4 separate regions of the Homo sapiens genome follow, and regions 2, 3 and 4 are each linked to region 1. The links come from fine-mapping of genetic effects on gene expression. A gene starts in region 1. Each other region holds a variant in brackets. All regions are shown on one strand. Distances are between the middles of the regions.

Evidence for each region. PIP is the estimated chance that this variant, and not a neighbour inherited with it, causes the effect. A credible set is the group of variants that fine-mapping cannot tell apart.
Region 2: its variant is the best candidate, but not a certain one, in a credible set for the expression of LUZP1 in skeletal muscle (FUSION, PIP 0.52).
Region 3: its variant is the best candidate, but not a certain one, in a credible set for the expression of LUZP1 in whole blood (INTERVAL, PIP 0.65).
Region 4: its variant is the best candidate, but not a certain one, in a credible set for the expression of LUZP1 in whole blood (INTERVAL, PIP 0.80).

The regions. Positions count from the first base shown.
Region 1 is chr1:23,165,192-23,172,726 of GRCh38, forward strand. LUZP1 (leucine zipper protein 1) reads right to left here and starts at 3,665. Exons shown (of 4, transcript NM_001395462.2): 1 at 3,575-3,665. RefSeq lists enhancers at 2,371-2,902, 2,903-3,434, 4,510-4,559 and silencers at 2,674-2,813, 3,805-3,864.
Region 2 is chr1:23,009,223-23,016,757 of GRCh38, forward strand. It overlaps TEX46 (testis expressed 46), which reads right to left and starts at 6,630. Exons shown (of 3, transcript NM_001242521.2): 1 at 6,550-6,630; 2 at 4,661-4,823; 3 at 1,612-1,879. The coding sequence starts at 6,551. The coding sequence ends at 1,679. RefSeq lists an enhancer at 1,139-2,338. The variant C/T (reference allele first, on the strand shown) is at 3,494.
Region 3 is chr1:23,103,843-23,111,377 of GRCh38, forward strand. LUZP1 (leucine zipper protein 1) reads right to left here. Exons shown (of 4, transcript NM_001395462.2): 2 at 5,180-5,285. Among named protein-coding and RNA genes, the nearest start is that of LUZP1, 61 kb to the right of the region's middle. The variant C/CAA (reference allele first, on the strand shown) is at 4,584.
Region 4 is chr1:23,000,274-23,007,808 of GRCh38, forward strand. No RefSeq gene overlaps it. Among named protein-coding and RNA genes, the nearest start is that of TEX46, 12 kb to the right of the region's middle. The variant G/A (reference allele first, on the strand shown) is at 4,879.

The DNA.
Region 1 (7,535 bases):
CATTCCCAGGGATAAATCTGCTACCCAATTCCTAAAAGATAACACACAGTTTAAAAAAATAAACACAGTGGTGGTAATTATACAACTGTATACATGTGTCAAAATTTGTCAAACTGTACACTTAAAATTGGTGAATTTTATTGTATGTAAATTATACCTCAATAAAGCTTTTTTTTTTTTTTTAAAGAATGCATTCCGGGCAGGGCATGATGGCTCATGCCTGTAATCTCAACACTTTGGGAGGCTGACATGGGAGGATCCCCTGAACCCAGGAGTTCCAGGAGACCAGCCTGGGAAACACAGGGAAACCTCATCTCTATAAATAAAAAAAAAAGTTAGCCAGGCATGGTGGCACACACCTGTGGTCCCAGCTTCTCAGAAGGCTGACGTGGGAAAATCACTTGAGCCCAGGCAGTAGAGGATGCAGTGAGACATCATCACAGCACTGCACTCCAAAAAAAAAGGGAATACATTCATTACATTCATTCATTCACTCATCAAATATTTGCTATGCATCTATTATATGCATCAAAGTTTATACCACATCTTTCAGCCTGGACTATCCGGGTCCTACCTGTAACAGCATGCTTTACTCATAAGTTGACACTGTCCCTAAAAGCTGTATTACATGAAAAATGATTCTGTTTCTGATAATGTTACCTTAATGATGGCCGCTTTACACTGGAAGGGCCATTAGCTATCCATCAACTTCCATTACATAAATGAAATATATGATCACTTAGGTACTCCCCATTTTAACAGAAATGCTTTCATCATAAGAAATAAGTAAGCACCTAGAGGCATATAGTACATACCACTACTACACTACTACAGCCTTATATGTTTGTCTTTTTACCAAAAAAAAAAAAAAAAAGAAAAGAAAAACAGCACACTTCAAGTGCATATTTACAACACTGCTGAAAGAAAAGGCAATACTATTGGAGAATAGACTTAAATGACTTATTCTAGGGCCCACAGTCACCCAGTGGCTGAGTCAAAGGCCAAAAAACTAGGTCTCATGATTCCCAAGGCAGTGGGCAAAGTAGAGAGACAACCACAGACCTGAGAAACAGACCTGGGTATGAATTCCAGTGCCACTTCTTACTAGTTGTGTGTGTGAACTTGGGACAGCCACTTTACTTTCTGACCTTTGGCTTGCTCATCTATAAAACAGGGATGCTGACTGGGAGCGGTGGCTCACACCTGTAATCCCAGCACTTTGGGAGGCCGAGGCGGGCAGATCACTTGAGGTCAGGAGTTCGAAACCAACCCGGCCAACATGGTGAAACCCCATCTCCACTAAAAATACAAAAATTAACCGGGCAAGGTGGCACACACCTGTAATCCCAGCTACTCGGGAGGCTGAGGCAGGAGAATAGCTTAAACATGAGAGGCGGAGGTTGCAGTGAGCCGAGATCGCACCACTGCACTACAGCCTGGGTGACACAGAGCACTCCGTCTCAAAAAAAAAAAAAAAAAAAAAAAAGGGATGCTAACTACCACCTCACAAAATTCTTGGGAAGACTGCCTAAGATCTATACCACCTAGCATAATTACTGGGTACAGAATAGGCAACTCAACAACATTAGTTCCTTTTCTTGGTCTTAAATTATTTAAGATTAAGAAAACACCTCATAATCAACGAAGGCTAATTAACAATCCGCATTATTAATCACTGGTCAACAATGAACCTGTGTTTGCTGCCTTCTTCATACTCCAACCCATTCCCTTCCCAGCTCACTATTTCCAGCTTTTCAAACTTTAGTTACTATGTTTAGAAAAGTGATTTAATTTTAGAAACCTGGAAAATTCTTCTAGGAGTAAATTCTTCTAGGAGTAAATTGAGCAAAACCTTAATCTGCCCCCAGGGGAATTCTGAGCAAAACAATTATTTCTGACAAAAGAAGAATTTTCTATGGGGGTAATTCAATTTAACCACATGAATACTACCAAAGTTGCAAACAAGGTGACAGAAGGCAATCTGGAACACACCTTCCAGATTCCCCAAAAAGAAATGTCCTCCTAAAATCCAAACCCCTCCCTCCCTAATTTGAGGTAGTCAAATCTTATTAGGTGATCTGAATTCTCCCGGCTCTGACACCAGTCCAGCTCCTTAGGCCAGAACTGCAGCCGTCTGTAAAAGAAATACCCTGAGCAAACCCCACCCCTCAAAACATCCCCAAAAGGCAGGGAGGTCCAGAGAGTATTTTCTCCTCCAACGACAGATAAGGCACCAAGGGCTCAGCAGCGCAATCCTTCTCCCAAGGTCATTCAAGTCAGTGAAGGTGCGACGGTGGAGCTGCAGGCAGTCTGGCCTTCTGGAAATCACACTACAGGGGTTTTGGGGGTGCCTACTCTCTTCCCCTCTCCCACCCGCAAGGGTGAGCACTGGCCTCGGCATTCCCGAAACAAGCCACAACAAGCTCTGCAGTGTTAGGAAAGGGGTTGACGCGATGAAGAAACAGATGCTCCAAAGCAAGATGGTCTTTCTCGGCTCACAGAGGCTCCTCCAAGGTTATGCACAGAAACCGCAGCCACCTCCAAGAGCTCTAAACCGGGCTCCGAAGCCCCAGCGCGGCCGCTGCGGGTCGCCAGGTTCCCTGCAGGCAGGCTCCGCAGCCAGAGGCCACCAGCCCCAGAAACCGCACTTCATTCCTGCGCTCCGGGAAGCCATGGCTCCTTCCCTGCCCGGGCGGCTGGGCGGGGGCCGGGGGTGCGCCGGGAGGCGGGCCCCGCGCTGCGGAAAGTTCACCGCGGCGGGCGGGGGGAGGCCCCGGCCCCGCTCGCCGGCGTCCCCCTGCAGATTCCACCATTAATTAGTCCTAAGGACTGTCTACTGGCAACTTAAACAAAGCGAATGCCTCGAATTCCTTCCCGGCCCAGCGGTCTGGCTGCGAGACCAGCAGAGCGCCCGGGACGCGGGCCGGCGCGGCCGACAGCTGCGGCGGCCGCGGGACCCCTCCCCGCCCGGCCCGCGGCCCGCGCCCCGCGCCCGCAGCTGGCCCCGCACGCCGGCCCGACGCGCTCCCAAACCGCCCTCCTCCTCCTGCTGCTGCAGCTCCCGGGCCCTTCCTGTCTGATCACTTCCTTCCTCCGGTGCCCGCCGGGCCCCGCGCAGCCCCCTCCACGGCCGCCTCGTCGCCCCCCGCCCCTGTCGGCCCGCGCCCCCTCCCCCAACCCCAAACTCTACCCCCGAAACTCTTCGCCGCCCCCTCGAAAATGTCTCCTCCGCGTCTCTGCCCCAAACATTTCTCCTCAGAGTCTCGCTCCCACCAAGAAGTCTCCTCAGAACCTTCCCTCCCCCTCCCGAGGAAAAATCTCCTCAGAGTCTCTTCCTCCAACTCCACAAACATGTGCTGGGTCTCGCCCCAAAAGGTCTCCTCCTGAGCCCTTCCTCCAAAATCCATTCCAACTCTCCCCCAACTCCACACCCCATCTCTCCTCGGCTGCGCCCGCGGTTTCTTCTGCCCCGTGGCCGCGGGTGCCCCGACCTCACCCGGGACCGGCCTCCCAACCCCGCCGCCCTCCCCTCCCCGCGCCGCGCTCCCGCCGCCGCCGCCTCACGGACCCTCACCTCTGCGGCCCCGAACCGCGCTCCCGCCAGCGAAGGGTTCCGCCGCTCAGCTGCCAGCGACCGGCGCCTCCTCTGGCTCCGCGGGACTGACAATGAGGGGCGGGGCCAAATTGTGACGTCAGCGTTCTGGAAGGCGGGGTCTTTGTGATGGGCGGGGTTGTCTGTAGGCCCCGCCCCCTCCGTCCTTTTTTTCCCTTCCCAGGACTTAGACTCCACCAAGTTTTTATTGCCTCCGTAGCTGGGTCCTGTGCTAGGCGCCCTGGGAAATCGAAATGGAAGACAAGACTTCTCGATTTCAGGAGGGACACTTTCGGCCCGCGTGGTGGCTCAAGTCTGTAATCCCAGAACTTTGGGAGGCTGAGGCGGACGGATCGCTTAAACTCAGAAGTTCGAGACCAGCCTGGGCAACATGGCGAAACCCCATCTCTATAAAAAATACAAAAATTAGCCGGGAGTGGTGGCGCCCGCCGGTAAGCTAAAGTAGGAGGATCGCTTGAGCCGAGGGAGGTCGAGGCTGCAGTGAGCCGTGATCGTGCCACTGCACTCCGGCGTGGGTGACAGAGTGAGACCCTGTCTCAAAAGAAAAAGAAAAAAGCGGGACACTCTCAGTAGGGTTGTGAGGATTAAATGAGATAATCAATGGAAAGGTGCTTAGCCTAGAACCTGATATGGAATAATCACTCAACAAATCCTATTTCTATTACTCTGCAAATGCAGAGAAGGAACTCAGCTCAGACTCGGGAGGCATGGGTTCCCGTCCCCCACTGTGCTATTAATTCTTTGTGTGATGCTAGACAAGTACTTTCCCATCTATGTTCCCGATTTTCATCTTCTTTAAAATGGGAAGGGGGAATAACCAGATGATCTCAAAATCCCCTCCCATACTTCTATGACATACTTCCTTTAAGTCTACTATCTAAAAGGCACCTAGTGCCCTGAGAAGCCAGGAGGAAGGCTTCAAAGACAGCCCAAGACCCACACCCAGCATAGTACAGGACACAGCCAGAGACTGCTCTCGCTGCGGATGCCCTCCCACACGCTGGCACGCAGCAGCATTCACAAGCCAGGACACAGATGGGCTGAGGGCTGCTTCCTCTCTGACTACAGCAGCATGGTTGGTCTCTTGAGACATCTCTTGTGTAAGCTCTTTATTGCCTATGGAATAAAGGCCAAAGCCCTGGCCTGGTATGATCACTTCCTACCTTTACACACACACACACACACACACACACACAAAGTTTATCCAAACTTCTCTTAGCACACCCACTGCTTTCCCACATTTGACCCTTTGCTGAAGCTCTTCCCCTGCTGTCTCACCTCCCAGCTTCTCCCAGCCAGAAAGCAATCCTCCCTGTTCTGAATAACCAATAACATTGTGTTTAACCCTCACGTGGGCATGAACACTACAACTTATAAAGAACTGACCTCCCATTTGTTTCTTAGCACTTCCTGGAGGTCAGAACCCACACATGTTTGTGGAGCTCAAGCTCTGATGCCAGAAAACCCTGGGATCATATGTTCTGGGGTCATAATAGCCATCTCTGAGCCTGTCTTCTCATCTATAAAATGGGGATAATAATATAGTCTTGTGGTGTTTGTTTTAAAATTACCTAAGATACTGTATGGAAAACATCAGGCACAGTGTTCCACAAACAATATGAACAATATGATTGTCATTCTTATTTTCTTTTTCTTTCTTTTTTTTTTTTTTTTTTTTTGAGACGAATTTTCTCTCTTGTCGCCCAGGCTGGAGTGCAGTGGCACGATCTCAGTTCACTGCAACCTCTGCCTTCCAGGTTCAAGAGATTCTCCTGCCTCAGCCTCCCAAGTAGCTGGGATTACCGGCACTTGCCACCACACCTGGCTAATTTTTGTATTTTTAGTAGAGACGGTGTTTCACCATGTTGGCCACGCTGGTCTCGAACTCCTGACCTCAGGTGATCCACTCACCTTGGCCTCCGTAAGTGCTAGGATTACAGACGTGAGCCACCACATCAGGCCCCTGTCATTCTTATTTTCAGTAGTATTATATTGACCAGGCGCGGTTGCTCATGCCTGCAATCCCACCACTTTGGGAGGATCACTTGAGTCCAGGGGGATGGATCACTTGAGTCCAGGAGTTTGAGACCAGCCTGGGCAACATGGCAAAACCCCGTCTTTACAAAAAATACTAAAAATTAGCCAGGCCTGGTGGTGCCCGTGCAGTCTCAGCTACTCAGGAGGCTGTGGTGGGAGGATCCCTTGAACCTGGGAGGTGGAGGCTGCAATAAGCCATGATAATGCCACCGCACTACAGCCTGGTGACAGATCGAGACCCTGTCTCAAAAAAAAAAAATATATATATATATATATAATTACTGTATGATTTATATATGTATTTTTATATATAACTACTATAATCAGTATTATTTCTAGTTATTAACACCACACAGCACCTCATAACAATCCACCTAATCATTTCATATGGAAGACTTTAGGGTCTTGAGAAAGGAAGAGGCTTGCTGAAAGTGGCCCTGCAAAGCATTCCCATTGGAATGGAAACCAGCACTCCAGTCTGCAGACCCCAGATGGATTCAGCAGAGTCACATCTGATGATGCCCCAGGGCATCTCTGCCATTCAGCATGCCTCCAAGCTGGGGTCAGCGTGTAGTTCTCTCTGAGAGTTCTTTGCAGCACAGCTGACCCATTTCTGCTTCATGCCTTTCTCCTCTCACCTTCTTTACAGAGACGTGGATCTGTGTTAAACCGCCCTTGGCATCTCTGCAATCCTCTAGGAGAACTGCAATGAGGCACTGGGCATTTCTAGAGCACTGGCCTGTGGAAGGAGGGGAGGAACTTTGGGGTTCTGATTAATTTCCTATGCTGCAGGCAGGCACATGGGTGTCCTGAAATGCCTGGCCCGGTCTTCAAAGGCCTCTAATAAATTATAGCTTATTTTTAGAAAAAATATTCAAAAACACCACTTCCTGTGAAAAGTAATCATGGCTGTAAGATTGCTGGAGGCAAAGGAAGGGCCTTTACTGAGTTGCTCCTAAGGGCTAATGCTGATTCCAAGTACCACAAACCCTTGGAAGGAAGAACCCAGGACATATAAGGGAGGTTCTGAAGAAAGAACTTTCTCCCCAGGACCCATGATCCCAGCAACCACTTATTGATTTATTCATAGCAAAAGCTTTGGCACAGGAAAGATCGGGATTCAAAACCCAGCTCTGCCACTTACTAGTTATGTAATCTTGGGCTTTTAGGTCTCTGCACCTCAGTTTCTCATCTGCAAAATGGAAATAATAATACTACCTTTCTCACACAGTGCCTGTGAGGGTTAAACATGTGAAAGAGCTGAGTTCAGAGCCTGGCACCTAGTTCATGCCAGGATATAGTGGTTGCTGTTACTATTTGAACATGTCCTCATCCTCCCAGCAAGACCTCCATTAGTAAAAGGAAAGGAATAGATTTGTATGATTGGACAATAAAGGTCTCTATTGGGCATTGTTAAGTGAAAAGAGTAAGAGTAAGTTGCCGAATTACAAGTGTAGTAGGATCCTGTAGTTATAGTTTGTAATATATGCTTAGTATATGCATAGAAAAATATGGAGACTATAAAGAACTAAATAGGCCAGGCGCAGTGGCTCACACCTGTAATCCCAGTGCTTTGGGTGGCCAAGGTGGGAAGATTACTTGAGACCAGGAGTTTGAGACCAACCTGGGCAACATAGTGAGACCCCTGTCTTTACAAAAAAAAATTTTTATTTTTTTATTTTTTTTTTTTTAGACAGAGGTCACCCTCTGTCGCTCAGGCTGGAGTGCAGTGGCACGATCTGGGCTCACTGCAATCTTTGCCTCCCAGGTTCAAGCGATTCTCCTGCTTCAGCCTCCCGAGTAGCCGGGATTACAGGAATGATCCACCACACCCGGGTAATTTTTGTATTTTTAGTAGAGATGGGGTTTCACCATGTTGCCCAGG
Region 2 (7,535 bases), 160 kb before region 1:
GGGTGAGAAAATGTCTGGACACGTAAGACACTGATAAGCAATCATATTCTTTTTTTTTTTTTTTTTTTTGAGATGAAGTCTCACTCTGTTGCTCAGGCTGGCTGGAGTGCAGTGCAGTGGCATGATCTTGGCTCACTGCAACCTTCACCTCCCAGGTTCAAGCAATTCTCCTGCTTCAGCCTCCTGAGTAGCTGGGACTACAGGCATGTGCCATCACACCTGACTAATTTTTGTATTTTTAGTAGAGACGGAGTTCCACCATGTTGGCCAGGCTGGTCTCGAACTCCTGACTTCAGGTGATCTGCCCACCCCTGCTAGGATTATAGGTGTGAGCCACCACGCCTGGCCTAGGTATTCTTTATTGAGCACTGCTTGTATACTAGCCACTGTGTTAGGTGCTACGGGTGGGGGAGGGATATACAGATGAACAATATTCTGTGCTTGTCTTCAAAGAGCTTATAGTCTAGTTGAAGCATGGGGAGGGACTGTAGTAATGTGTACAAATCAAATCCCAGCAGACTGTGAAACATTCTATTGTAGAACTACACATAAAATGTGGAAACAATGCTAAGGAAAAAGATTCATTATAGCTGGCTTGAGGGGAGCTTCCTAGAGGTGATGGCTTTGGAAGAAGTGAAGAATTGTAACAGCAGAAAGGAGAAAATTAGGGATCACGTGAAGAAACAATGTAAGCTTATGTGGATGCATTTGGGGGATGGCAAGTTCTCTGGTTTGGTTAGAATGCATGAGACTTGCATGAGAGAGACGATTTTAGGTAGAACACCAACCTAACACTAAGTCACACTGAATCAAACAGTGAGATAATGATTTCCTTTCCAGTTTTCATTATGAAGAAAAGTCTCGGCTAGGTGCTTGCTTGTCTTTCAAACGCTAACACTTGCTGATCTCACTTTTTAACACAGAACACCGGCTCAGATCTGTCAGTGGGCAACCGAGCTCTGGTTGAAATGCAGTAACACGAGCCGGGCGTGGTGGCTTATGCCTGTAATCCCAGCACTTTGGGAGGCCAAAGCAGATGGATCACCTGAGGTCAGGAGTTTGAGATCAGCCTGGCCAACATGGTGAAACCCTGTCTCTACTAAAAATACAAAAATGAGCCACACATGGTGGCGGGTGCCTGTAATCCCAGCTACTTGGAAGGATGAGACTGGAGAATCACTTGAACCTGGGAGGTGGAAGTTGCAGTGACCCAAGATCGTGCCACTGCACTCCAGTCTGGGTGACAAGAGCGAAACTCTGTCTCAAAAAAAAAAAAAAAAAAAAGAATGAGCAATGGACATGGTCAGAGCCAGGCTTGGCAGGGCTGGCTTCGGCCTCTGGGTACAGGATGAGAGGGGAAACTAGGGGCTAGGGCAGGAGTGGGGAGACTCAGAGTGAACAGCACAGGGCCAGGGAGGAACCAGGGTAGAACCAACTGAAATAGAAGACTCTAGAAAGGGATGGTTCTAGAGCCCCATCAGGCCGTGTCACTACGTGCTACCTGGTAGACCTGGTGTGTACAGATTTCTTTTCCAGAGGCAATCTTTCAGCCTCTGATCCTCTTCCTGGCTCCTAGGCACCTTTCTGTTATGACTTACTATGAACATTCAATAGGCTGTGACTGGGTTTTACTGAGGTAAAAGGTAACATCGGCAGAGGCCAGCCCGCCTCGGCCTCATTAGCTGGGGGAACTCGAAGTACAGTCAGACAGGGTGGGGCAAATTGACTCATGCCTCCTCATTCTGTGTTTTTTCATGGGAAAATTCCGATGTCTGCTTGACCGCCCGTGGTGATTCATTTTATTCCATATGATGAACATCTGATTTTCTAGGACCTTCATCTTCATTTCACTGAACAACAGCCGTTGGAGGATCTCGTCCTGGAGGGCAAAGCAGGCATGCGTTCTATTGACTTCTTTTGTGTTCACGGCCTTGCTGTTCTTGGAGTCGTTTTCAGAAGTCTTTGGTTTCTCTTCCTCCTTTTAAGCTCCCCAGCACCAGGAAAAGGGGAAAGTTGGTTAATAATGATAATCCCTTCCTTGCTTGAACACCTGCTCTGTGCCAGGTGGTTTACAAACATTATCTTAACAGAGTCTCACAACTGCCTGCAAGGGGAGCATCATTGCCTCATTTTGTGGAGACTTGGGACCCAGTAACGGGAAGTCACTTTCTTTTTTTTTTTTTTTTTGAGACTGAGTTTCACTCTTGTTGCCCAGGCTGGAGTGCAATGGTGTGATCTCGGCTCACTGCAACCTCCACCTCCCGGGTTCAAACGATTCTTCTGCCTCAGCCTCCAGAGTAGCTGGGATTACAGGCACGTGCCACCACACCCAGCTAACTTTTTGTATTAGTAGAAATTTTTGTATTTGTATTTGTAATTATTAATAGAGGCAGGGTTTCACCATGTTGACCAGGCTGGTCTCGAACTCCCGACCTCAGGTGATCTGCCCGCCTTGGCCTCCCAAGGTGCTGGGATTACAGGCGTGAGCCACCAGGCCCAGCTTGGGAGGTCACTTTCTCAGCATCATACAGCCTCAAATTCCCGAGTCCTCCACTTGCCTTTGGTTCATAGGAATGCATGAGATGGCCCGCTAATCTGCCAGTCACAGTGGACATAAAGCCCTTAGCCTAAATATATCTATCTCCAGAGCCCGTTTTTCCAACATGCCTCTCTGAGCATTTTGTCAGGCTCAGTACGATCTCAAACTGCGAAGTCTCAATGGTCTCATGACATGCTTTTATCTCTATGATCCTCATCTCTCCCTCCCCTGGTTAATAACACTTATTTTTTTTTTCTTTTTGGATTCAGCTACAAACTAATGGTCTTTAAAAATGTTTAAAAATTAAGCCAGGTGTGGTGGCTCATGGCTGTAATCCCAGCACCTTCGAAGGCCGAGGCAGGAGGATCGCTTGAGCCCAGGAGTTTGAAACCAGCCTGGGAAACATGGTAAAATCCCGTCTCCACAAAAACTAGAAAAAATTAGCCCTGTGCACACCTGTAGTCCCAGCTACTTGGGAGGCTGAGGTGGAAGGATCACCTGATCCCAGGGAGGTCGAGGCTGCAGTGAGCCATGGTTGTGCCACTGCATCCAGCCTGGGCCACAGAGCGAGACCCTGTCTCAAAAAACTAAATACATAAAAAAAAAAAAAGGTTAACTGAAAAAATTCAACATATCAGGCATGCAAAAAGGTAAATAATACAACAAATACTCATATTCCCATATCAACTTAAGAAATAAAATATCATAAATATAACTAAAGTTCCCTGTGGACTCTCACACCCACAGCATCCTCCTCCCTCCCTGAATATCATCACCTTAACTGTAATCCTGCATTTAAAATTTATTTTTCCATGCATTTCTTTATAAAGTAGTTCTCAATGGGAGGCATTCTGCCTTCCCCAGGGGACATTTGGCAATATCTGGAAATACTTTGGATTGTCATGAAATGGCAGGTGTGCTACTTGGCATCTCATGGGTAGGGGCCGGGGTGGC[C/T]GCTAAGCTAACAATGCACAGGTGACAGGTGAGCCTCCCACAATGGAGAATTATCTGGCCCAATATGTCAATAGTGCCAAGGTTGAGGCATCCTGCCTTAAAATACTTTCACTGCACATACACATCCATAAATAAGATAGGCTATTGTTTTGCCTTTTTTTTTTTTTTTTTTTTGAGACAGAGTCTCACTCTGTCATCCAGGCTGTAGTACAGTGGCATGCTCACTGCAGCCTCAACTTCTCGGGCTCAGGTGATTCTCCCACCTCAGTCTCCTGAGTAGCTGAGACTACAGGCACGCACCACCATGCCTGGCTCATTTTTGTATTTTTTTTAGAGATGGGGTTTCCTCATGTTGCCTGGGCTATTCTCAAACTCCTGGCCTCAAGTGGTCGTTGACCTGCCTCGGCATCCTAAAGTGCAGGGATTATAGCTGTGAGCCACTGCGCCAGGCTGTTTTGCTTTTTATTTTTGTTTTTAGATGGAAGCTTGCTCTGTTGCCCAGGCTGGAGTGCAGTGGCATGATCTCAGCTCACTGCAACCTCAGTCCCCTGGGTTCAGGTGATTCTCCTGCCTCAGCCTCCTGAGTAGCTGGTATTACAGGTGTGTGTCACCACACCCAGCTAATTTTTGTATTTTTAGTAGAGACGAGGTGTTACCATGTTGGCCAGGCTGATCTTGAACTCCTGACTTCAAGTGATCCACCTGCCTCGGCCTCCCAAAGTGCTGGGATTGCAGGCGTGAGCCACTGCGCCCAGCCTAGCATGTTTTTTAACATTAAATGAAAGATGTCATAATCTATGTACATTTCTGCTGTCTTCATTATTCTATTTTAGATACGTATCTATGTTCGTCCATGTTAATTTTTTTTATTTTTTTCACATTAAAGTAGTTGTTACTCTTGCCAAAGCATGTTGACATCAAACATGAAATAGGAGAGTCTGGGGTGGTCCTGATTTAACAGCTGAGGTGAGGCAACTGAGGCCTCGTGGAGGGAAGTGATTTACCCAGCACCACCTAAGAGGAAGCTGTAGAGTGGTGGTTTAGACCAGTCTTGGATTCCCCAGTCTTGCCCCATTATTTCGACACCTACCCTGTTCCCTACCCACCTAATCTAGCTGCAAATATCCCCTATCCCTGAGCTGAAGCCAAGCCCCATCTTGTGCTCACCTGCTGGGGCTCTGGGAGGGTGAGCTTGTGTTCATACTTGACCAACCAGTTGCTAAGCAACAGCAGAAGGAATAGGAACCCAAACAAGGCTGGCTTATAGCTCATCAGCCAAGCTGCCACTGCTCCTATGGTGCCTGCGGAGGCAAGTATCCCATGGAGACTCCTAAAGAGAAATATCAGTTCTGCCAGCATTATGGCGTGGAGGCACACAGGCCCCAGGACCCTGCCTCAGGCCCCTCCATGACAAGAGTCACGGCCACCCACTCCTCTGAGTCATAGCCAGCTCCCTCCCCCCACCCAGCTGCCGCATAACAATAATAATAACTCCTCCTTTGTCTGAAGCACCCACTATGTGCCAGACTCTTTGACAGGCAGTTTGAAAGCATTATCTCATGATGTCCTCACAATAGCCAGGTGATGTAGGCCTCCTCATTCATTCACCAGTACTTCTGGGCCTCGCTACTAGCAAAAAAAATGGCCAATACAGAGCCCCTACCATCATAGGGGCAAAGAAAAGTTATCCAAACTTAGACATAACTGCTTTCACAGTTATACTAGCCCATCTATTGGTCACCTGATACTTTAGGGGAAGGTAACTTTGTTTAATATAATATGTAATATTGATTAGGTTTTGGACTCTGTATAGTTAGACATTAATTTTTTATTTATTATTATTTTATTTTATTTTTGAGACAAGGTCTCACTGTGTTGCCCAGGTTGGAGTGCAGTGGTGTGATTGTGGCTCACTGAAGCCTCCAACTCCTGGGCTCAAGTGATCCTCCTGCCTCAGCCTCCTGAGTAGCTAAGACTACAGGCATGTGCCACTATGCCCAGCTAATTAAAAAAAAAAATTATTTTTTTAGAGACAAGGTCTTGCTATATTGCCCAGGCTGGTCTCAAACTCCTAGCCTCAAGCAATTCTCCCTCCTGGAGACATTAACTTTTATTATTTTATTTTATTTATTTATTTTCTTTTTTGAGACAGACTCTCACTCTGCTGCCCAGGCTGGAGTGCACTGGTACCATCTTGGCTCCCTGCAACCTCTGCCTCCCAGGTTCAAGCGATTTTCCTGCCTTAGCCTCCCAAGTAGTTGGGATTACAGGCACGCACCACCACACCCACCTAATTTTTGTATTTTTAGTGGAGACAGGGTTTCACCATGTTGGTCAGGCTGGTCTCGAACTCCTGACCTCAAATGATCTGCCCACCTCGGCCTCCCAAAGTGCTGGGATTACAGGTGTGAGTCCCCGTGCCCAGTGAAGACATCAGCTTTTAAAAAATGCTAGCCAGGCACGGTGGCTCACGCCTGTAATCCCAGCACTTTGGGAGGCTGAGGCGGGTGGACCACCCCAGACCAGACTGGCCAACATGGTGAAACCCCGTCTCTACCAAAAATACAAAAATTAGCCAGGCGTGGTTGCGGGCGCCTGTCATCTCAGCTACTCGGGAGGCTGAGGCAGGAGAATTGCTGGAACCCAGGAGGCAGAGGTTGCAGTGAGCCGAGATCGCGCCACTGCACTCCAGCCTGGGCGACAACAGTAAGACTCCTTCTCAAAAAAAAAAAAAAAAAAAAAAAAAAAAAAAAGCATACATTGCTATAGTAATTCCACTTTTGGGTATTCCCAAAGAATTGAAAGCAGAGTCTTGAAGAGATATTTGTAGACCAATGTTCACAGCAGCATTATTCACAATAGCCAAAATGTGGAAGTAACCCAAGTGTCCATCCACAGATGAATGGATAATAAAATGTTATATACACGCAATATTACCAGCCTTAAAAAGGAAGGAAATTCTAACATGTTACAACATAGATGAACCTTGAGGACATTAAGCTAAGTGAAATAAGTCAGTCACAAAAAAAAAACAAATACCGTATGATTCCACTTACATGAGCTATCTACAATAGTCAAATTCATAGAGGCAAAGAGTAGAATGGTGGCTGCCAGGGTCTGGAAGGAGGGGCAAATGTAGTCATTGTTTAATGTATACAGAATTTTGCAAGATGAAAATAATTCTGGAGATTGTTTATGCAACAATGTGAATGCATCTAACACTACTAAACAGTATACTCAAAATGGTTAGGATCATAAATTTTATGTTATGTGTATTTTATCACAATAAAAACATCTGATATGAATTAGTTATTTCTGGGGAAAAAACGGGTAAGTGCCACCACATCTGGCTAATTTTTGTATTTTTAGTAGAGACGGGGTTTCACCATTGTTGGCCAGGCTGGTCTCCTATTCCTGAACTCAGGTGATCCACCCGCCTCGGCCACCCAAAGTGCTGGGATTACAGGCATGAGCCACCACACCCGGCCAGGAATTCTTTATGTAAAAATATCAGTTTTAGTGGCTGTGATATTCCAATATAGAATCATGCCTTGCTAGGACCATGCCTCACTGAACGATGGGATACATTCTGAGAAAAGCGCCATTAGGCAATTTCATTGTTGTGTGAACATCATAGAGCATACTTAACACAAACCTAAATGGTATAGCCTACTACACACCTAGGCTATATGGTATAGTGTATTGTTAATAGGCTACAAACCTGTATGGCATGTTACTGTACTGAATACTGTAGCAATTCTGTCTAAACATAGAAAAGGTAGAAAAGGTATGGTAAAAATGTGTTATATAATTTTATGGGAACACTATCTCATATGCAGTCTGTTGTTGATGGAAACATTGTTATGCGGTGTATGATTGTATCAAATTGGTTACCACTTGTTGGGGCTTTTTAAAATTTTTATTGTTTTAGAGACAGGGTCTTGCTCTGTTGCCCAGGCTGGAGTGCAGTGGCGTGACCATAGCTCACTGTAGCCTTAAACTCCTGGGCTCAAGCAATCCTTCCACCTCGGCTTCCCAAAAT
Region 3 (7,535 bases), 61 kb before region 1:
GGAGGGAGGGAGGGAGGGAGGGAGGGAGGGAGGGAGGGAGAGAGGGAGAGAGGGAGGGAGGGGGGAAGGAGGGAGGGAGGGGGGGAAGGAGGGAGGGAGTGAACAAGCTAACAAAACAATGCTGTATTCGGGGAATTTAATTCAGCATGGCTGACACCAGAGACACAAGGGGAAGAGCAATTAACTGGTAAGGTCTCTGTGGTAGGTTTGAGGCCCCTGAAATGTCACAGTAAGTTCAGAGGCTGAGGGTGTACTGTTTGAGGAACATTCCCTTATCTCCTTTCCTTCCAAGCCCCCACAACCCACAGCCATTCCGATGGTAAACATCTTTTTTTCTTTTTCTTTTTTTTTTTTTGAGACGGAATCTCGTTCCATCGTCCAGGTTGGAGTGAAGAGGCACGATCTCAGCTCACTGCAACCTTCGTTTGCTGGGTTCAAGGGATTCTCGAGAACTGCCTCAGCCTCCCGAGTAGCTGGGATTACAGGTGTGCGCCACCACGCCCAGCTAATTTTTCTATTTTTAGTAGAGACAGGTTTCACTATGTTGCCAACACTGGTCTTGAACTCCTGACCTCAAGTGATCCACAAGCCTCGGCCTCCCAAAGTGCTGGGATTACAGGTGTGAGCCACCACGCCTGGCCCAATGGTAAACATCTTTTAATGCATCTGTTCTCTGAGGCCTTTTCAAACCATCCTTCCCCGCAAGAGAAATGCACCATCCTAAATTCTGTAGATGCTTCTATCACTATATCCATGATACTTAAAATATCTGTCATCCTCTGCTGGGCTCTGAGAGCAGGGACTGTGTTATCTTCATTTTTCAGTCCTGGGCACTGAATACAGTGACAGGGGCAAGGTAGGAACCTTATAAATGTTTTGTAAATAAATTAATGTAATAGTTTTATTGTATTCTGTACTGGCCAAATTTACATAAAGGGGACTATTTTCAGATCTAGGCACTACATTCTAGGAAAGATGCTTAGCCTTTATGCCAGAGGCTGAAATGCAGGTGCCAAAGAGATCAGGCCAATGATTTAAATGAGTTAAAGGGCCTAGAAGGACTATGGCTAAGAGGGGCTATGCCCTACTTTTATATATAATCTCTTAAATGTAGCCAATGAATTCAGATTTCAAAAAAGAGGAAATAAAAAGAATACCACTGTATAGTCCCTCCAAAACATACATGCCTGCAAGTGGATATGGGAAGCAAATTTGCAACCTGTATTGGACAAAGGGATTAAGTAAGAGAGTAACACAATCAGAACTGCAGTTTTTGAAAGGCCATTCTAGCAGGATAAACTAGGGTGCTATTGTAATAGTCAAGGCAAGAGATGGGATAAGGGCCTGAACCAGGACAGTAGCAATGGGGTAAAAGGGTGGGATGGATGAAAGATGACCTGGTCTGCCCAGTTCTAATAATGAAGTCCAAGATTGCATGAACGAATCTGATAGCCACAGTACCAATTTGTAGGTTCATACTGGCTTTGTTTCCAAATAAACTGTTAAATCTCATTTTTAATAATTGAAATATGGGGCTTAATTCTTTTGCAGGCAACGTGATACAATGATTAAAGTTTACGAACTCTGAAGCCAGGCAGCCTAAGTTCAAACCCTGACTTTATTAGCTACTAGCTGTGTGACCTTGGATAAGTCATTTGAATTCTCTATGCTTCAATACCTATAAGGTTATGGTATGTGTAAATAAGTTAATGCAAGAATTGCTTAGACTAGTACCTGGTCTATAGTAAGTGTCATGTAAGTTTCAGCTTAAATTATTATTTATTATTTTTGGATTTCAACTTCTTAGTTTCAATCCCTTGACTAAATATTCTCTACACTGTCTAGCCTGCAAACATTCGCTATTTAAGTCTCATAGGCATGTCTTTTCTATATCTTCATCCAAATTGATGTTCAAAAACAAAATATAACCAAAATCATTAAAAACACCTCCTATAGATTAACACTGATCTATTACAATTCCTGAGTGCAACTATTCAAGAAGCTCCAAAGCCAGGTAAAATTTTTTTTTTTGTCTTGGGATCACATGAGAAAACATTAAATACCTAATGTTAGCACTTAAGACACATTACCTTTGTAGCACATTCCAATCCTCCAGCGACCTAGGAATCTTTCCAAAAATGAAATGCTCTGATATATATATCAAACTGCTATATGGTAATTATCTCTGGATAATGTGCTTTTTTTCTGTTTTTGCTTATGTCTATTCTCTAATATTTTTATACTGAACTTGTACCGATCGTTTAAATAAAATCATGGCAAGGCTTAAAGAAAAAAAAGAATTGTTATCAGCTAGCATGATTTATTCTTAGTGAACACAAGCTGGCTTCTAGGGATCACTGTTCTCATTCTTTGATCAATCAATTTTAGAATTTTACCAGAGATCACTGTCAAGTTTCCAATGACATCCTCAAACCCCTGTGACCCAGACGTTAACTCCAAATAAATCAAACACCTCTCAAATGGGCACAGTGGCTCATGCCTATAATCCTAGCGCACTTTGGGAGGCTGAGGCAGGCAGACAGCTTGAGCCCAGGAGTTCAAGACCAGCCTCGGCAACATGGTGAAACCCTTTCTCTACAAAAAATACAAAATTTAGCTGGGAGTGGTGGCATGCACCTGTAGTCCCAGCTTCTCAGGAGGCTAAGGTGGGAGGATCAACTGAGCCTGGGAGGTCGAAGCTACAATGAGCTGAGATCACACCACTATACTCCAGCCTGTGTGACAGAGTGAGACCCTGTCTCAAAAAACAAAACCAAAAATTTAAATTAAAAAAAAATCAAACAGGTCTATGGGGAGAATTAGAATTTGAGAGCCTTCAAAGTATGTCTAGAAGCCATTGCTTTCTGGTTAGCCACCACTACCACCCAGGTCCAACCTACCATCATCCCTGCCCTGGACTACTGATTACTGCAAAAGCTTCCTAACTTGTCTCCCTGCTCCCATCAGTGTCCATCCTTCCCCACCCTCCACAGTCTGTTCTCCCACAACAACCAGAGTAGGCCTTTTAAAACATCAGTCAGATCAAGTCACTCCTCTGCTCTAAGCTCTTTAGTGCACCTCACTTAGAATACAATGCACTCCAAAGGTGTCACATGGCTGTAAGGCCCTACATGATCTAGGTCCCATCACTCATCTGCTGCTCCTTCCCTACTACTCCAATCCAGCCACACGGCCTCCTTATGGGTCCTTATACATGACCAGTTACACTCATCCCTCAGAGATTTTATACCTGCTGTTCCCTCTGCCTAGGATGCTTTTCCCCCAGATATCTCCCTAGCTGGACTCCTCACTTCTTTTAGATCTTAGCTTAAAATATCACCTCATCAGAGGCCTTCCTTGATTGCTGTACATAAAGGAGCAATCCCTCAGCTCCCCACCACTATCACCTTACGCTGCTTTTTTGTCTTCTTAGCATGTACTATCTAGTGGATGTTATTTGTCTACTCACCTGTTTATTTATTTATATCTAATTATTCATTTTTATCTGTTTCCACCCATTAGAATATAATCCTTGAGAGAAAGGACTTTTTCTATTTTGTTTAATGCAGTATACTTAGTTCCGATAACTAAAGCGTGTAGTAAGTGGCCATTTTTTGTCATCAGAACATTAGCCCCAGTATATAGCAAAATATTTTATGTGTAATAGGTATGTGTAGGCTGGGTGCAGTGGCTCACACTTATAATCCCAGCACTCTGGGAGGCCAAGGTGGGCAAATCACCTGAGGTCAGGAGTTCAAGACCAGCCTGGCCAACATGGTGAAACCCTGTCTCTACAAAAAATACAAAAATTAGCCCAGGCGTGGTGGCACACACCTGTAATCCCAGCTACTCGGGAGGCTGAGACAGGAGAATCGCTTGAGCCCAGGAGGAGGAGGTTTGCAGAGGCAGTGAGCCAAGATCGCACCAGTGCACTCCAGCCTCGGCAACAGAGCAAGACTACGCCTTGCAAAAAATAAAAAAATACAGGGCAAGAGTTTGCCTTGAATTTTTCCACTCCTTCGAGAAGAGTTCTGTATTATCCCTAACTACACCTATTTCCTCAGAGGGGTTGACATGAGAGCAAGAGGCTTTGTTAAGATTCCTTTCCTATGCCCAGTCACTGCTATGACGAGAACCCATTTCCCACTCATTCTGAGCTACCCTATTGCTCTACTTTCCTAGGGAAGCTTTCTCTAACTATCATCCAGCTATCAGGAGCAACCAAGACCACCAGGTCTCTTGGCCACTGACCGTTCAAGTTCTCACTTCTATCTCTTCTATTTCATTAGTGCTCTCCTCTGCCTTAGCCAACACCAACCAATAAAATATTGGCACATAAAATCCATAAATGGCTAGGAAAAGAACCTAATTGTTGATCAAAAGGTTTTGTATTTTGCTTTGCTTTTCCAAGGTTAAATCAGTCACAGCCTCAACCAAAAAGTAACTTTCTTAAAAGGGAAACATTATAGTGTAATGAAAATAACCCACTAGGGTGGTGGCTCATGCCTGTAATCCCAGCACTTTGGGAGACTAAGGCAGGAGGACTGCTTTAGCCCAGCAGTTTGAGACCAGCCTGGACAATA[C/CAA]AGAGACCCAGTCTCTACAAAAAAATTAGCTGGGCATGGTGGTGCACACCTGTAGTCCCAGTTACTAGGGAGGCTGAGGTGGGAGGATCACCTGAGCCCAGGAAGTCAAGGCTGCAGTGAGCCATGATCACGCCACCGCCCTCCAGCCTGGGCAATGGGAGCGAAACCCAGTCTCAGAAAAAAAGGAAAGAAAATAATGCAGGTTTGAAACCTAGTTCTACTACTTGTGTGAACTTGGAAGAGTTATTTAACCTCTTTAAGCTTGTTTCCTTGTGGTGATGACAACAGTACTTACCTCACAGGGTTGGTAGGGCGATAACATGTCCAACAGGACTGCGCCCGACATAGAGTAAATATTCAATAAATGGTAGCTACTTCTTAAGGGTGGCCTAATTCTTACGGTTGCTAACTTCATGCAAGGATTTTTCACCCTCATCAGGTTGGTTGGTTAAGTACTCAGCATAGTATTTGGTTCATAATAGGCCATCACAAATACTGACTTTCCTCCCCACTTCCAGTAGTGGCAAAATTATAGTGGCTTCAGAAACCACCCAATTCTATTGGTACACCCAGGTTTCACTGTACAACATACTTACCATGTAGGTAATTCAAGCTTTCCGTCAATACTTCCGGCGGCTCTCCCTATGCTTGCTGTTTTGGAAACAGTCACTCACTCTCTTTCAAAGGCAGTTGTCTCTTGACCTGGATAGAATATAAACAGAATGGAAGAGATAGGTAATGCATGAATCATACCAAGACTGAGGTGACCCAGAGGGCTGTCCCAAAGACTTTCACATACAATTCACTGTCAGCAAGGGGCCAAGGTAAGATCTGCATCTAGATCCTGACACTAAAGGAACCTGGCTAAGCTGGCTATGTCTCTCTCAGGAAAGTCAAGAAAGAATTTGGCTGTAGGAGACTTCCCCTTTCCTATAAGATGATATGGTCCTAGGGTAGAACCCACTGTCTTTGCTTAAATTAAAACACCCGAACATTCCTCAACAGTCTAAAAATGTACATGACATCTTACAGCTAGGAAGCATCTCAGAAATCAGCTACAGGTTGAGCATCCCTGATCTGAAAATCCCAAATTCAAAATGCTCCAAAATCTGAAATGTTTTGAGTGCCCACATGACTCCACAAGTGGAAAATTCCATACCTGATCTCATCTGATAGGTCGCAGTCAAAATACAGGCACACAATACTCAGGTTTATTCAATGTCCCCTGGGGAAAAATAAAATTACCTTCAGGCTATATGTATAAGGTGTATAGGAAACATAAACGAATTTCATGTTTAGACTTGGGTCTTATCCCAAGACATGTCACTGTATACATGCAAATATTTTTTTTAAAAATCTGAAATCTAAAACACTTCTGGTCCCAGGGATTTCGGATAAGGGGATACTCAACCTTCAGTTAAATGTCCTTGTTTTACAGAAGGAAACTAAAACTTAGAAAGGGTGAGTCACACAATTATTTAGCAGAAAAGCAAGGATTCTACTAAAAATAAGATGTTCTAGAAGATAGGAAAAAAACATCTGCGGAGTATTTACCAACCCTGAGCACTATGCTTTATGTTTTATATAAGACAATAAGAAGATAATGTTACCTCTACTTTACAGATAAAGAATTTAAGTTTCAAGAAGTGACTTGTCCAAGGTCTTACAGCTTGTTATTAAATGACAGAGTTTAAACTCAAGTCTGTCTGACTTTGAAAGTCCCTTCACCATGCTGGCTCTCATTTTGTTGCCCTCTAGACTCGGTCCTCAAAAGAGCCCTGAACCACCCAATATCAATTAAAACTAAAAATAGAGCTTTTCTTTCTGCAAACTTACCCTCCAGTTTTGAAACAAGCAGGCTTCTACAGGAGAGTTGAAAAGCCTACCATCCCATTGAATCTTACCCCTAAAATTAGAGAAGAGCTACTACAGATGGAAGATCTGGGTCAAACTTCTTGTGTTATCTTACTCTTGAGGAAAATGGAAAGGTAGCTTCTAAGCTAGTGGTAAACCTAAAGCTTTTGTACATGATCTTACAAACTATCCTCCCTTCTTTCATCACAACTGCCTCCCTTACACATCCCTGCAAGCCACCTTGTGACTGCCTTCCAAGACTATTGGTCCCTTTAATCCAACTTCCACACCTCCACCAAAACATGCACACATGCACACATACCTGCACCTGCGCGCATGCATGAACGCGCACACATACACACACACACACACACACACACACACACCCATCCCTGCCTCTATCTTCCCAGAGAGCAAGGCGGCTAGAATTACAATGGACAAATAATGAGAGTTTTTTAAAAACAGCTTAAAAGATGAGGGGAACAGTAGTAACTCAAGCCTCAAGAGAATAAAATTTGAAAAGAATTTTTTTTTGTAGTGATGGGGTCACACTATGTCACCCAGGCTGGTCTGAAACTCGTGACCTCAAGCAATCTTCACACCTTGGCCTCCCAAAGAGAAGAGTTACTGATAGTATCGGCCAGGCACGGTGACTCACGCCTGTAATCCCAGCACTTTGGGCGGCCAAGGCGGGCAGATCACCTGAGGTCAGGAGTTCAAGACAACCCTGGCCAATATGGTGAAACCCCATCTCTACTAAAAATACAAAAATTAGCTGGGCATGGTGACATGTGCCTATAATCCCAGCTACTCAGGAGGCTGAGGCAAGAGAACCTCTTCAAACCAAGAGGCGGAGTTTGTGGTGAGCCCAGATCGCGCCACTGCACTCCAGCCTGGGCGACACAGTGAGACGCTGTCTCAAAAAAAAAAAAAAAAAAAAAGTTACTGATAATAAAAACAGCTAGAAAATAAGTATAAAAAAGGATCTAGGCCAGGCACAGTGGCTCATGCCTATAATCCCAGCACTTTGGGAGGCCAAGGCAGGAGGATTGCTTGAACCCAGGAGTTCAAGAACAGCCTGGACAACAACAAAGCAAG
Region 4 (7,535 bases), 160 kb before region 1:
TGATGGAGGACCCTTGAATAGTGAGGAAACCTCTTTCAGCCCATATAACAGCATGGTGGTGCAGGATATGGAAGGCATATAAAGTCAGTATAAATATTGATGCGTAGTCTTTTTGCAAGAGTGAGGGCTCAAGTTAGGGCAATGAGTTCGGCTTGCTGAGAGGTAGTGGAATAGGGCAGAGTGGTGGCCTCAATGATAGATGTGGAAGATACTATAGCATAGCCTGCCTTTGCTGGTGAGTGGCAATTATGCATGGTGGAACTGCCATCAATAAACCAAGTGTGATCAGGGTGAGGGACAGGAAAGAAGGAAATATGGGGAAATGGAGTGAATGCCAGGTGGATCAGAGAGATACAGTCATGGGGGTCAGGTGTGGTATCAGGAATAATGTGGGGTCCAGCCTAAAACAGTAAGGTCAAGTTGTTTGGACAGAAAGGCTACAGGACATGGTCCCAGCTCTTGTGTAAGAATTCCAACCGCACAGCCCTATGCTTTGGCTGTATGTAATGAAAAAGGGTTGGGATGAGTTAGGGACAGCTAGTGTGGGAGCAGTTTCTCAAGCTGCTTTCAAGGAATGGAAAGAGGAGTGGGGAAAGGATTTAGGATCTATGGGGTCAGCTAGTTTTCTATTTGTGAGTTTATATAATGGTTTTGTTAGGATGGCAAAACCAGGTATCCAAACGCAAAAGTATCCAACCATGCCCAGCAAGGAAAGGAGTTGTTGCTTTGTAGAAGGGGTTGGGGTTTGAGAGATCAGCCAGACACAATTGGCAGGGAGAGCATGCGTGTTTTCATGAAGAATTATGCTGAGGTAGGTAATGGATGGAGAAGAAATTTGAGCTTTGGAGGGGAATACCCGATATCCCTTGGAGAATAAATGTTGAAGGAGCAGGAGGGTGTCTTGTTGAGAAGATTCAAAGGAAGGGCTACAAAGTAGAAGGTCATCAATATATTGAATAAGGTGAGAAGCAGAGTGGTGGAAAGAAAGTAAACCATGAGAAAGAGCTTGGCTGAAGTAATGAGGGCTGTCCCTGAAGCCTTGTGGAAATACAGCCCAGGTAAGTTGCTGAGAATGATTGGTGTCAGGGTCAGTCCAAGTAAAAGCAAAGAGAGGCGGGATGAAGGGTGCAAAGGAATAGTAAAGAAAGCATCTTTGAGATCCAGAACCGAATAATGGGTTGTGAAGGGAGGTATTGAAAATAGGAGAGTATATGGGTTTGGCACCATGGGGTGGATAGGCAAGACAATTTGGTTGATAAGGCACAGATCCTGAACTAACCTGTAAGACTTGTCTGGTTTTTGGACAGGTATAATGGGGGAATTGGAAGGAGAGTTTATAGGCTTTAGAAGCCCATGCTGTAGCAGGTGAGTGATAACAGGCTTTAGTCCCCTTAAAGCCTGTCGTGGGATGGGATGCTGGCACTGAGTGGAGTAAAGTTGATTAGGTTTTATTGGGATAGTAATGGGCATGTGATCGGTTGCCAGGGAGGGAGTAGAGGTGTCCCATACTTGTGGGTTAAGTTGGGGGGGGGATACAAGAGGAAGACACAAAGGAGGCTTTTGGTTGGGGAGAAGGGCAGCAATGAGATGTGGCTATAAGTCCAGGAATAGTCAGGGTAGCGGATAATTTTGTTAAAATGTCTTGACCTAATAAGGGAACTGGGCAGGTGGGGATAACTAAAGAGGAGTGCATAAAAGAATGTTGTCCAAGTTGGCACCAGAGTTGGGGAGTTTTAAGGGGTCTAGCAGCCTGGCCATCAATACCCACAACAGTTATGGAGGCAAGGGAAACAGGCCCTTGAAAAGAAGGTAATGTGGAGTGTGTAGCCTCCATATTGATTAAGAAGGGGACGGACTTACCCTCCACTGTAAGGGTTACCCAAAGCATCTGTGATGGTCTAGGAGGCTTCTGAGGCAATCAGGCAGTGTCACTCTTCAGCCACTGAGCTGAGGAGATCTGGGAAGGAGTCAGTCCGAGAGCCTTGGGCTAGAGTTCCAGGGGCTACAGGAGTGGCTGCTGGGCAAGTTGGACAGTCTGATTTCTAGTGGGGTCCTGCACAGATGGGACACGGCTTAGGAGGAATCCCGGGCTGCGGGCATTCCTTGGCCTGGTGGCCAGATTTCTGGCACTTGAAGCAAGATCCTGGGGGAGGAGGTCCTGGAGGAACGCCTGGCCACTGCGGTTTAGGTGTTTTGAAGTTCTTGTGTGCTGGAGATGTGGCTGGGGTTTCTCTCACAGCGGAGGCAAGTAATTGCAACTCAGAAATAGGTTGCCACTTGGCTGCCTCTTCTCTATTACTGCAGACCTTGAAGGTGAGGTTAATTAAGTCCTGTTGTGGGGTTTGAGGGCCAGAATTTAATTTTTGGAGCTTTTTCTAATGTCAGGAGTGGACTGAGTGATAAAATGCATATTGAGAATTAGTCAGCCTTCTAGCCCCTCTGTGTCTAGGGCAGTAAGGCATCTAAGGGTTGTTGCCAAATGGGCCATGAACTGGGCTGGGTTTTCATATTTGATTAAAAAAAGCCTAAACACTAACTGATTTGGGAGAGGTCGGATGAAGAAAAAGGAGCATTAACCTTGACTGTGCCTTCAGCTCTAGTCACCTCTCTAAGAGGAAATTGTTGGGCAGGCTGGGGAGGGCTAGTCGCAGAACAAAACTGTAAGCTGGACCGGGTGTGAGGAGAGGAGGTGATAGAAGGATTATAGGGTGGGGGAGCGGAGGCTGAGGAAGAATTGGGACCTCGAAAGGAGCAGCCTGGGAAAGAGGGGAGAGGTCAGATGGGTTCATAGAAAAGGAGGATTCAAAGGACCCACAGCTTGGGGTGGAGACTGAAGGAACAGACAGGAGAAAAAGAAGAAAGATTTGGGATGAGTTGCATTAGGAGCAGAGGCTAGGGAGGGACCGATGTGTAAAAGAATGCCTGGACGTCAGGCACCTCAGACCATTTGCCCATTTTTCGACAAAAATTATCTAGCTCTTGTAGGATGGAGAAACTGAAAGTGCCATTTTCTGGCCATTTAGAGCCATTTTCAAGTTTGTATTGGGGCCTAGCAGTATTGCAGAAGAAAATAAGGCATTTAGGTTTTAGGTCAGTTGTGAGTTGAAGGGGTTTTAAGTTTTTTAGAACACAGGCTAAGGGAGAAGGAGGAATGGAGGGAGGAAGGTTGCCCACAATAAAACGGTAAGTTTAGAGAAAAGAGAGGGTAGAGACACGGAGAGAGGGGGGTGGTACTTCCCGCCCAGAGGAGGTGGTACTTGCCACCCAGGGTAGGTGGTACTTGCCGCCAAGGAGAGGTGGTACTTGCCACCAAGGTGAAGGATCAACGCAGGTGTCCCCGTGGTGATCAGACACCTCTGAAATGTGGGTGAATAATCAGGCAGGCGTCCCCACAGTGATTAAACACCAAGGGAACACTGTCTTCCCGAGTCCGTGACCAGCACCGGAGTTTTGGGTCCACGGATAAAATGTGTCTCTTTTGTCTCTACTAGAGAGGAAAAAGAACTGGAATTGGAAGGACAGGGAGATTGAAGGGTAGTGAGAGAGGCTAGAGAAGAGAGTGAAAAGACCGCTTACCCGACTTGAAATTCATGAGATGTTCCTTGGGTTGGTTGGTCTGAGGACCTGAGGTCGTAGGTGGATCTCCTCACGGAGTGAGGGTGAGGACAGGGGACCAGTCTCCCGAAGCAGTCCTCCTGTCCTGGGTCTTCGGCACCAAGTTTTCACGCACGTCCATGTGAAGAGATCACCAAACAGGCTTTGTGTAAGCAATAAAGCTGTTTATTTCACCTGGGTGCAGGCAGGCTGAGGCCAAAAAATGAGTCAACAAAGGGAGATAGGGGTGGGGCAGTTTTATAGGATTTGGGTAGGTAGTGGACAATTACAGTTAAAAGTGGTTATCTCTTGCGGGCAGGGGTGGGGGTCACCAGGTGCAGGGTGGGGAAATCCTAAGACTCATTGTCCAGGGGAGAAATGTCACAAGGTTGATTTATTAGTTGGGCTGGGGTAGGAAGAAATCACAATGGTGGAATGTCATCTTTTGTGGTTCTTCACTTGCTCCAGGCCATCTGGATGTATACGTGCAGGTCACAGGGGTTATAATGGCTTAGCTTGTGCTCAGAGACCTGACACTAATAAAATGGGACCTTCCCATCTAGGAATAAACCATCCTAGCCATGAAAGATCAGACAAAACCTGAGACCAGGGCAGGTGCGGTGGTTCACTCCTATAATCCCAGCACTTTGGGAGGCTGAGGTGGGTGGATCACTTGAGCCCAGGAGTTCAAGACCAGCCTGAGAAACATAGTAAGACCTTGCCTCTAAAAAATAAAAATAAACCTGAGACCAGAGACTCATTTTCTTCTGAAATGCTTTCTCCAGAAGGTTTCAAAAAGAAAAGGGGGAAAGTGTGAAAGGAAAAATAAATCTCCAAATCCCCAAACCACTAAGCCAAAAGGAAAAGTCAAGCTGGGAACTGTGTTAGGCAAACATGCCTCCCATTCTATTCCTAAATGAGATAGCTACAAAGATTAAAAAGCTACATACCTCCCTCACAATTTACCCACAAGGAAATTCACTGTGGACAAAGAACAGACAGAACTCAAAGTCATCCCTCTGCTCACATGAGACAAATGCATATCTGATTGCTTCCTTTGCCCTATTGTTTCACTAAGCCAGACTAAGGCATAAGTGGTTATTCCCGGAAAGTGTGTATTCAGTGAAAGGGTAATCAGAAACTCAAAAGAATGCAATTGTTTGTTTCTAACCTATGACCTGGAAGCTCCCTCCCTGCTTTGAGTTGTTCCGCTGTTCCACCTTTCTGGACTGAACCAATGTATTATTATTATTATTTTTTTTTTTGAGAACGGAGTCTTGCTCT[G/A]TCACCCAGGCTGGAGTGCAGTGGCACAATCTCAGCTCACTGCAACCTCCACCTCCCAGGTTCAAGCGATTGTCCTGCCTCAGCCTTCTGAGTAGCTGGGATTACAGGTGCCCACCACTACACCCAGCTAATTTTTTTGTATTTTTAGTAGAGACAGGGTTTCACCACAGTGGCCAGGCTGGTTTCAAACTCCTGACCTCAAGTGATCTCCCCACCTTGGCCTCCCAAAGCCAATGTACAACTTATGCATATTGATTGATGTATCATGACTTCCTAACATGTATAAAACCAGGCTGTACCCCGACCACCTTGGGCATACATGTTGTCAGAACTTCCTGAGGCTGTGTCATGAATGCATCCTTAAACTTGGCAAAATAAACTTTCTAAATTGATTGAGACTTGTCTCAGATACTTTTTGGTTTACAAGAGTTGATTAACTAGGATATTTAGTAGAAGAAATCCTTAAGCAGCAAAGTGTTCAGGACGCTGCATGGCTTCTATTAACTGCTTTCAGTAAAGTCCAAGAAGAGAGAAATGATTTAAAGGCGGAACTTATAATTAAAAGGGAAGCAGGCCAGGCACCATGGCTCACACCTGTAATCTCAGCATTTTGGGAGGCCCAGGCAGGCAGCCACCATGAGACTAGGAGTTCGAGACCAGCCCGGCCAATATGGTGAAACCTCATCTCTACTAAAAATACAAAAATTAGCCAGGTGTGGTGGCGGGCACCTGTAATGCCAGCTATTCAGGAGGCTGAGGCGGGAGAATTGCTTCAAACCGGAAGGCAGAGGTTGCAGGGAGCCAAGATTGCGCCATGCACTCCAGCCTGGATGACAAAGCAAGACTCCAACTCTGTCTCAAAAAAAGGGAGTTGGTAAGGGGGAAGCAGAATATAAATATTTGGAAATTTCTCAGGCCTGGCCATGTAAAGAATTAAAAAGTGTTTTTAGGAGAGAACACTAAACCAAGCAAAGGACCATTTGGTAAGATCACTATGGATAGAAGGAAGCCAGATGCTATTCATCAAGACAATGGGAGAATGACCCCAAAGGCATCTCGAAGATCTTCGGGCACTGCCAAATCCATCACAGGCTCAGAGTGCTAGGACTTTGGAGGCAGAACAGTTTTGGAGGAGTTGCCCAGGGGACCCTGTGGGACATCAGGGCTTGCTTTCCAGGACCACCTCCCTGTGTTCTGGTGCAGCACACCAGCCTCTGCTGGTGTGGCTAAAGCAAGTCTAAGTGCAGCTGGGGCCACTGCTCCAGAGGGCATAATCAGTGAGTCTTGGCAGCATCCGTGTGGTGCTGATTCTGCAGGTGTGCAGAGTGCAGGATCTGTGAAGCCATAGCTTCCTCCACCCAGATTTTAAGGGATGCCTCAGAGAGCCTGGGGACTTAGGCAGAGACCTAGAGCCACTACACTACAGAGAGCCGCCCCCCAAACCCAGAGCAATGCCCGGCAGAACTGTGGGGTTGGGACCTCTGCAGAGAGTCCCGATTAGGGCAGTGCCTAGTGGAGCCATAGGAGTGGGAAGACCTCAGAATTGTAGAGCATTAGTGTGCTACTCCAAGCACCCACCTTCGATGTGTGTGACAACTGCAGCTAGCAAAGCCACGGGGGTAGAGTTGCCCAAAGTCTTGGAGGCCCAACCTTCATACCAGTGTGTCTGGGAGGCAGAACATGGACTCAAAGATTATGCAAGCCTTAAGATTTAATGTTGTTTGCACAGTTAAGTTTTGTACTTAGAGGCCAGGTACAGTAGCTCACGCCTGTAATCTCAGCACTTTGGGAGGCCAAGGCAGGCAGATCGTGAGCTCGTGAGTTTGAGACCACCCTGGGCAACGTGGTGAAACCCTGTCTCTACAAAAGATACAAAAAATTAGCCAGGTGTGGTGGTGCGCACCTGTAGTCCCAGCTACTTGGGAGGCTGACGTGGGAGGATGGCTTGAGACAGGGAGGACGAGGTTGCAGTGAGCTGAGATCATACCACTGCACTCCAGCCTGGACGATAGAGCCAGATCTTGTCTCAAAAAAAAAAAAAAAGTTTTGGACTTACTTGGGGCCTGTTACTCCTGTCTTCTTTTCTATTTCTCCCTTTTGGAATGGAAATATCTATCCTATGCCTGCCCCACCACTGTATTTTGCAAGCACATAATTTGTTCGATTTCACAGGTTTACAGCTGGAGGGAAATTTGCCTCAGGGTAATTGTACCTTGAGTCTCACCCGTATCTGATTTAGATGAGATTCCAGACTTTTGAGTTGATGTTAGAATGAGTGAAGACTTTGGGGGCTATCTGGATGGACTAAATATATTTTGCACATGAGAAGGACATAAATTTGGGGGACCAGGGAAAGAATGTTGTGGTCTGAACGTGTCTCCCAAAATACATGTGTTGAAAAAAATCTCCAATGGAATGGTATTGAGAAGTGTGGCCTTTGGGGAGGTATTTAGGTCATGAGGGCTCCGCCCTTATGAATGGGTCAATGCCACTATAAAATGCTTGATAGGGCTGGGCGCAGTGGCTCATGCCTGTAATCCCAGCACTTTCGGAGGCCGAGGCAGGCAGATCACGAGGTCAGGAGATCGAGACCATCCTGGCTAACACGGTGAAACCCCATCTCTACTAAAAATACAAAAAAAAAAAAAAAATAGCGG